Linked DNA regions of Homo sapiens. The protein of the gene in region 1 purifies or fractionates together with the protein of each later gene. This does not show direct contact. Each region holds a gene or a part of one and is shown in the gene's direction. Other genes may lie near its edges.

Region 1 (4,523 bases):
AATTGCAATTGTAATTGTTGAGACTCCAATAATTCAGTGGCTCAAACAAGATGAACAATTATGCTCTTTCACATACAGGTCAGAACGAGGCCTGTTACACAGTGTGAGTCATGGGAGGGTGGCTCTCTTTCTCAAGGCCATCCAGTAAGCTGGCTTCCTCTGTCTTGTTAGTCTGCCACCCCCTGGAGTGCTGCTTTCCTCCGAATTAGCAAATCTGGTTTGCCAACACAGTATCTGCCTTCCAGGTATGGGGAAGGCACTAAAGAAAATTGGAGAGCCATCAACTTACTGTTTTAGCCACAGGGCCACACCAAGCTGCTGGGAGATGGGAAGTGTGGGCCAACTTACCCAAAGGAAAAAGGGGAGAGTGGCTGCTAGAGAAAGAGCGTACCCTAGGAAATGTTCCAGGGAGAAGCACCTTCCCCGCACACGCATTAAGAGACACAATGACGTAGTATGACCTTCTGGGGGCACTACACTAGAAAAGGGAAGAAAGCCTCAGATGGGCATGTGTACAGCTTCCTAAACACACTGCACATGCTTACTTCCCTGGGGTAAGGAGGGCAGCCCACCCTAAAGGAAGAATCATGGGAAAGTGGTGTGAGATGCTGGAAGTGGGCCAGCCTATGAAGGCCTAGCATCAAGGTTAAACATTTTGCACTTGTACTTGAAGTCATCCACTTGGGTGTCTTCTAAGTGTGCTTTCCTTTCTTTCCTGCTCTAAAGCTTTTAATAAACTTCCACTCCTGCTCTGAAACTTGCCTCAGTCTCTTTTTCGGCCTTACATCCTCAGTCAATTCTTTCTTCTGAGGAGGCAAGAATTGAGGTTACTGCAGACCCATATGGGGTAACTCAGATACATTTCCACTGTTAACAATTTTACATAAACTTTTAGAGATATATTATCATTAGCTCAGAGTAACACAACTAGTAAATGGTAGAGTCAAGGTTCAAACTCAGGTCTTTAGACTTGTGTATCTATTGAGCCAGTAAATGAGAGTGCCTAAGACTGCCCCCAAATCTGGTCTCTTTTCCACCCCACCAAATTACCTCACAATCCCATTGCTTCCTTTCACACCACAGAGGATATGTGTGGAAATCTATCAACCCAGAAGAGAACTGAGGTTTCATTCTGTGAATTTCTAATAGAAAAATTGCATGCCTGATTAAATACCTATTTGTTAGATATTTAATATATATTTTCTTCTATTAGGATATTCCATTCTTACTTTCATTGGGCAGGTTGCCGAAATGGTCATGTAATCAGCCCTTGGGGTAATATTCCCTGATCCTCAGCCTGTTTTGCACCTGTGGTTTAGCTTTTCCCAGGAGGATATGTAATAGTGAGGGAGGGGTGGATGAGAATTAAATGATTTCTTTTTCATGTGACTGGGAGGAGCCCTTTATTCCAGCCCCTGCCCAACTCCATTAAAAGCAATCACTCCCCCTGAACAGCCACAGAGCAGGTTCTTTTACAGGGAGCCACCATGGCTGATAAATCCAAATTTATTGAATACATTGACGAAGCTTTAGAAAAATCAAAAGAAACTGCACTCTCTCATTTATTTTTCACCTATCAGGGGATTCCTTACCCCATCACCATGTGCACCTCAGAAACTTTCCAAGCGCTGGACACCTTCGAAGCCAGACATGATGACATCGTGCTAGCATCTTATCCAAAGTGCGGTAAATGACAAGTCGTTTCCTACAAGTACACTTCTCATAGTGAGTAGGTTGGGGAGGGTATGAGACAAAGGTGGGATGAAGGCGGTTCCTCATTGCAGGAATCTGTCTGAGCATCAGTGAGGAGGAGGGCCACAGTGGTTAAGTACGTAGGTTGTAAAATCAGTAAATAGAACTGCTAGATTAAAAAACTCCAGTGTCTGAAGGAAGAGCTCTGTGCGGAAAGGCCATGATGGAGGATGGAGGGCAGAAGGGGGTGGATGACGGGCCTGGAAGGGAGGAGCATGAATGTGGGAAAGTCCAGTTGGCAAGGAACAGTGACAGTAGCAGTGATTTTGTCTTGATTTCTGGCTGGACAAAAGCACAGCCACTTCTATAATTTACATGATGATTTCCATGTTATAAATTATTTTTCAGGATCAAATATTGCTCCATCAGTTTCTCAAATCACTTTTACAAAGATCCTTCATCAACGGAAAATAAGACATGAAGAATCTAGATGATCCTGCTTTCTACCATCTCCTTTTGATTCTTTCTACTGTTGTTTACTAAAGCCAACCTCATTTAATATCTTTTTTTCTTAACTGATGCTGTGTTTTCATAAAATCAAAATTATAGATTCCTGTAGAAAATACATATTAATTTAATGTAAAATAATATATACAACTTATAATAAACTATTTCTATAACATAACATTGTCCTATAAGAAACATATTCTAGATTCAAAATGAAGCATTGTCCCTTGTTAAAGGAGCCATCTGTTCTCAGTTGAATTTTATACTAATTATAGGTAAATGCTGTTTTCAATCAAACCATTTCTTTCCATAGCCCAAGTTATTTCAAAGACAGAAGAACTAAATATACACATCAGGGAATGGTTGTAGATTTTAATTTTTATCATGTATATGCTAAAGTAACGTCCTTTTGTTATATCAAGACTCCGTAATGAGTTTTTATTCTCTGATTTTTCTGATAGGTTCAAACTGGATTCTCCACATTGTCAGTGAATTAATATATGCTGTTTCTAAAAAAAAGTATAAATATCCAGAATTCCCAGTTCTTGAATGTGGGGATTCAGAAAAATATCAGGTTAGTACAACCAGCCTTTAACCTTACAGCAAATTATCATAGAAAGATTTCTTCCGGTTTGGAGATTCTTTAGTTTTCAGTTTAGAAAGTGCAATGCTAATAATTACCACAATTTACTGTGTGCTTACCATATCCTCAGCACTGTTCAGGTATCATCTCATTTTCTGCAAAATAACCTTATTACCATTTCACAAAAGATAGAAATGCTAGGGACTTGCCCAAGGTCAAGGGACTAATAAATGATAGAGCCAAGATTTGAACCCAAGTTTTCCAGTTTGAGCTTTTAACAACTATACTGTATAGCCAGGCTGTTTTTGTTCTTTTTATTTTAAGTAGGGGGAAAGTAAGCTGAGAAACCTCAGGAAATGAACAGAAAAGTCTCATCTCTGAAGACATGGACCTGTGCAGGATGGTAGTAGGAATCACCAGTCTTTTCCTAGTAAACCATGATTTCTATTTGAAATGGAGTCTCACTTCATTGCCCAGGCTGCAGTGCAGTGGTGTGATCATGGCTCACTGCAGCCTCGACCTCCTGGGCTCAAGCGATCCTCCTGCTTCACCCTCCTGAGTAGCTGGGACTGCAGGCACGTGCCAGTACACCTGGTTAATTTTTTTTAATTTTTTTTGTAGAGGTAGGGTTTCATTTCGTTGCTCAGGCTGGTCATGAACTCCTGGGCTCAAGTGATCCTCCCACCTCGGCCTCCCAAAGTGCTGAGATTATGGGCATGAGCCACCGCACCCAGCCAGACATGATTTTTGATTTCCCTATCTCAGTTATGATTCACGTGTGTGTAAGGGATGGGAAGGAATCAAGCATTAGCTCAGAGAGTACGCCACTGATGTGTGTGAAGGGGATAACAGGTCACCCTAGCTGTTGTTACTTACCTTCCCAATACAACTAACTGGGTCTTGGATGTGAGATAGGATGTTCTACTCCCTGCCCAGGGAAGGCAAGAAAGGAGTGGGAGGATGGTCTACCTCAGGACTTCAGGGCTTGGACAGAAAAAAGACATGGAAGACAGCCTCTCCCCACTCCTAGACACACCAGAATGCAGCGGGGAAGGGAAGGCTGTATTCAAGGGGGAACCACAGTCTCAGTAAAACTTTCAGCAGTGTTCACCACCAAGATTCCCAACAGGCAGAGAGAACTCAGCTACTAACATAAAGCCACTGGATTGGGACTTAGGGAACAGCTTCTGGAAGGTGACTGAGACACTGGCATGATGACAAATACAAACTTGAAAGTTGGAACCTAGATGGAAGGAAGCCCATTTCCATGGATTAGGTCAAAGTAGCAGAAAAACACATGGTAAAGGGACTCAGAGGAGGGTGTTTTGGAGGTAAGTGCCGAGCCCTGGATTTGGTTGGCAACAAAGGAGCAGGGAGGGTCACCTGTACCAAAGCCAACCTGATGAAGGCTCAGCTGAGACAGGCCCAGGAACGTAGGATGGACCAACAGGGGCAGTAAGAAGCTTTGACCTAGGTAGGAAATAAAGGAAAAGCCCCATAGACTTCTCCTGTCCAGGCCTTTGCATAACCTTTTTCTAAAGAGAGTGCTTAACATCACCTTTAGAAATGATGCCAACATTTATCCAGATTTCAATTTCTCTCTCTCTGTTTTTTTTTTTTTTTTTTTTGAAATGGAGTCTCACTCTGTCACCCAGGCTGGAGTGCAGTGGTGCGATCTCGGCTCACTGCACCCTTCACCTCCTGGGTTCAAGCAATTCTCCTGCCTCAGCCTCTCGAGTAG
Region 2 (3,766 bases), on another chromosome or scaffold:
TAAGTAAAACATTTTTAGGAAGAAAGAATTCTGTCCGTATTGACATTTTACATTTTAACCTGATAGCCATATCAGTGATGTACTGACTTAATTTTATATAATATAAGCATTTAGTAATTTTCTTTTTTGTTTTCTGTGCAGGAAATCAGATGATAGCAATGGTATAGAAAATAATGTCCCCAGGCATAGAAAAAATGTAAGTTACTTCTGAATGATATTCCAAATAAAAGGTCAAATTCAATATACATAGGCTATCTATCAATCAGTTACTTTTTTTTAGTTCCATAAAAGATCTGGTCATTTATGATGTGCTCAAATATGCTTGTTAACACTATTATAGGGGAAAATATACAGTATAGTTATACAAAAATAAATCATTTTCCACCAGAGGGCACATAGCAACTAATCTAGAAGTAAATCTTTTGCACTGGCTACATATTTTATTTTATCACCACGGACTAGTTTCTTTTACAATTTTTCATGTAGCTTTATTTGTTTTCCTCTAAAATTTTCTGGATTTTCTGTTATTTTAGTTTCATTTATTCCCATATATTTGGGGGTATAAACTTATGCATATAAGCTAACTTTCTTTGCTGATTAGATTCAAAATTTTTAGTTCATCAACATTAGAGTAGGAGCTCTGTTTTGGCAGTAGATTGGATCCCTCACTTCCCAGTATTTTTTGCTTTGCTAAAGTGATAGTAAGTTACTATAAAATAACCAGAACATACTAATTATATTTGATTATGCTTTATTTAACTCAGGAGTCTCTGGGCCAGTGAATACAAAACATCATGTCGAGAATCATTGGAAGATATACAGAGTTCGTATTTCAGCTTTGTTTATCCTTCCTGTTAAGAGCCTCTGAGTTTTTAGTTTTAAAAGGATGAAAAGCTTATGCAACATGCTCAGCAGGAGCTTCATCAACGATATATGTCAGATCTAAAGGTATATTTTCATTCTGTAATTATGTTACATAAAAGCAATGTAAATCAGAATAAATATGTTAGACCAGAATAAAATTAATTATATTCTGGTCTTCAAAGGACACACAGAACAGATATCAGCAGAATCACTTAATACTTCATAGAACAAAAATCACTCAAAACCTGTTTATAACCAAAGAATTCATGAAAAAGAAAGCCTTTGCCATTTGTCTTAGAAAGTTATTTTTTAAAAAAAAATCATACTTACTATTAGTATCTATGGAAGTATATGTAACAATTTTTATGTAAAGGTCATCTTTCTGTGATAGTGAAAAAATATGTCTTTACTAAGTTGAAATGAATACTTTCTGCCTTTGCTAATGATAGTTATTCTACAATCTCCACAAGAAAAATATACCTTTTATCCGGAAATATTGGTTTAAGGCAAATAAATAAAACTGTGCTTGCTCTAAAGCTCTGCACTACAAAAGCAAATTTTCCAGTCTTTATTCCACTCATAACCACTGCTTTCCCCACCAGGCTAAAGTGCTTCTTAGTCTTAAATAGGGTTTTTAACTTCATAAGGTACACCATTGTTTATGTTTTAGGGTGCAGGTCCATATAGTCGTAATACTTAAAACACTGCTACACTGATGCTTTTGTGGCTCATGGTTTCCTGGTTCTTTGATTTAACACCTGGCTTCCTGGTATCTATGGCTGGTTAAATATCTAAACCTGCATTATTAGTGCTTTACAATAATAATTCCCTTGACTGAAGTCCAGAAATACTAAAGCACTTCTTTTTTATTGCTGTGAATGCCTTAGACTTATCTTCCAAAATAGGATACTTCGTTTCTATTGCATATATAACTGAAATATTTTATAAACTCACTGTAATCAAATCTTATAAAATCTGAATCAACATGAAAAGTTGTCAATGCTTGAATGAATACTAAAATCATACCACAAGATACTAGATAACATAAATGACCATGAAGTGTCCCACTGCTCAAAGGGCAACAACTTTAAGAACAGAAGCAAAGAGTGGTGGTGTGGAACCCAAGATTCTTGGCGACTAGGGAATTTAAAGGTTGGGGAGGAGGAATTCAATGATTTGACAAGAAATACTTTATAAAAATTTGCTCCATGTATTGGCTAAGAAAAATATAATAAAATTTTGGTAGTGAAAATTGTATCACTAATGTTTACCAATATTACTAGTATGAATAATACACATAAGGTAGTGACTTGGAAGCTGCTCAATACTTTGTTGCTATAACAAAATGCAATATTTTGTTGTAAAGCATCTTAACTACACATATAAGTTTGCTGAACTTGAATACATCCCGGTAATGGCAAACTTCATTTTATTCTTGGTTTTCATTTTATTCTGGTCTCAGGGCCATACATTTATTTTAGTTTAATTAATTATTATTTTGACAACATTACTTGGGTAATATCTATATAATGGTAGATAACCAATCAGTTAGCTTAATTAATCTAAGCTATTTGAATTCAGGGAAATATTAGTCAAATCTGCTGTTTGACTAAATACAATTCAAAGCAGTGTATTTGTGACTTGGAATATAGAACACAAACAAATGTGTAACCCATCTGCAGTATGCATTCTTCCATTTTACCACCACTAACCATTGAGGCTCATACAATTTTCAAGCAACAAGCATTGCTTCCCAAAGGTAAAATAATCAGGAATATTTCTATAGTAAATGGAGTTTTTAATTGGCAATACTGTTTATTTTTTTCTAGCAAAGACAATTTATCTCAGTAACCTTAAATAGGAAAAGTACTCAAAAATTAAAGTTGACTTTTGGCTTTTTGTAGTCTCTCTGGAGGACTTCCAGAAAATTACCACTGTTGGATTTTAATCTGCTTCCATTAACCAATCTTACAGAGATGATAAATGAATTAACTAATATTGACCAAATATAAATTGACTGCAAATAATAAGCCGCATAAAAGTTGAAGTAGGAAAACTACTCCAAGTTTATATATTAGGCACCTTGGGGAATTCTCTTAGTCTTTCCAGCTAACAAGGATTTTCAGCATAATAAGTAGATTTAATGATGGCATAAAATTCCCAGATACTTTCATATACATTTTTTGCCAAAGTGTAAATCTTCTCCTTTTGCAGTCTTTTTGTTATTATCCCAACATCTAGCTGCTCAGGCCCTAATTTAGAACTCATTCTGATATTTTCTTCTTCTGTATTAATTAATACTTATGGGTCATGAATCCCTGCTCCTTTGACCTTTTTAATAGCTCATGAATCCATCCCATTGCCTCCCCAACTCTGCCCACACCTGCTGCAACACTAATGCCTTGATTTTCCTACCTCAGTCTCCTTTTCTATTAATCCCTCTTTTGCGTGGCTGCCTGAGTCCACTTTCTCAAACACAAACCTCACTATGCAACTTTGGAATCTCTGTAGGCTCACCTTTGCCATTTCTTAATATTGCATTCTCCAAATTGCTAATCTCTATCCAGTCTCTTGAACTAGACTTGGCACATGGAGATTCCGCTCAGAAAGTGCTCTTCACACTTCTACCTGCTTGACTAACCCCAGATTATCTTTCAAGACTTTAATCTGATCTTGTGTCTTAGAGAAGCCCCCATACCTGGTAGAGCATGTACCATCTTACATGCTTAAATAACTCCACATTTATTTGTGTTTATTACTCTGTGTTATAAATATACATTTGTTGGTCTCTCTCTTGGATTATTTTGTTTCTTTGTCCTGTAACTACCACTGAAAGGGTGCAATACAGCTTTCTTGAAATGTGTATTGAACGGATGAATGTATAAATAAAAATTAAATTTTG

What was found. The genes of interacting proteins can lie anywhere in the genome.
Region 2: the proteins of SULT6B1 (region 1) and EMB purify together in Homo sapiens (affinity purification with mass spectrometry; one large-scale study listed by BioGRID and IntAct). This does not show direct contact.

What each region holds. Positions count from the first base shown.
Region 1 is NC_000002.12:37,185,605-37,190,127, reverse strand, and holds the start of SULT6B1 (sulfotransferase 6B1), read left to right. Parts: upstream 1-1,457; 5' UTR 1,458-1,487; coding exon 1,488-1,686; intron 1,687-2,660; coding exon 2,661-2,773; intron 2,774-4,523. UniProt on the Homo sapiens protein: Sulfotransferase that utilizes 3'-phospho-5'-adenylyl sulfate (PAPS) as sulfonate donor to catalyze the sulfate conjugation of thyroxine. Involved in the metabolism of thyroxine.
Region 2 is NC_000005.10:50,396,289-50,400,054, reverse strand, and holds part of EMB (embigin precursor), read left to right. Parts: intron 1-141; coding exon 142-196; intron 197-764; coding exon 765-782; 3' UTR 783-3,766. UniProt on the Homo sapiens protein: Plays a role in the outgrowth of motoneurons and in the formation of neuromuscular junctions.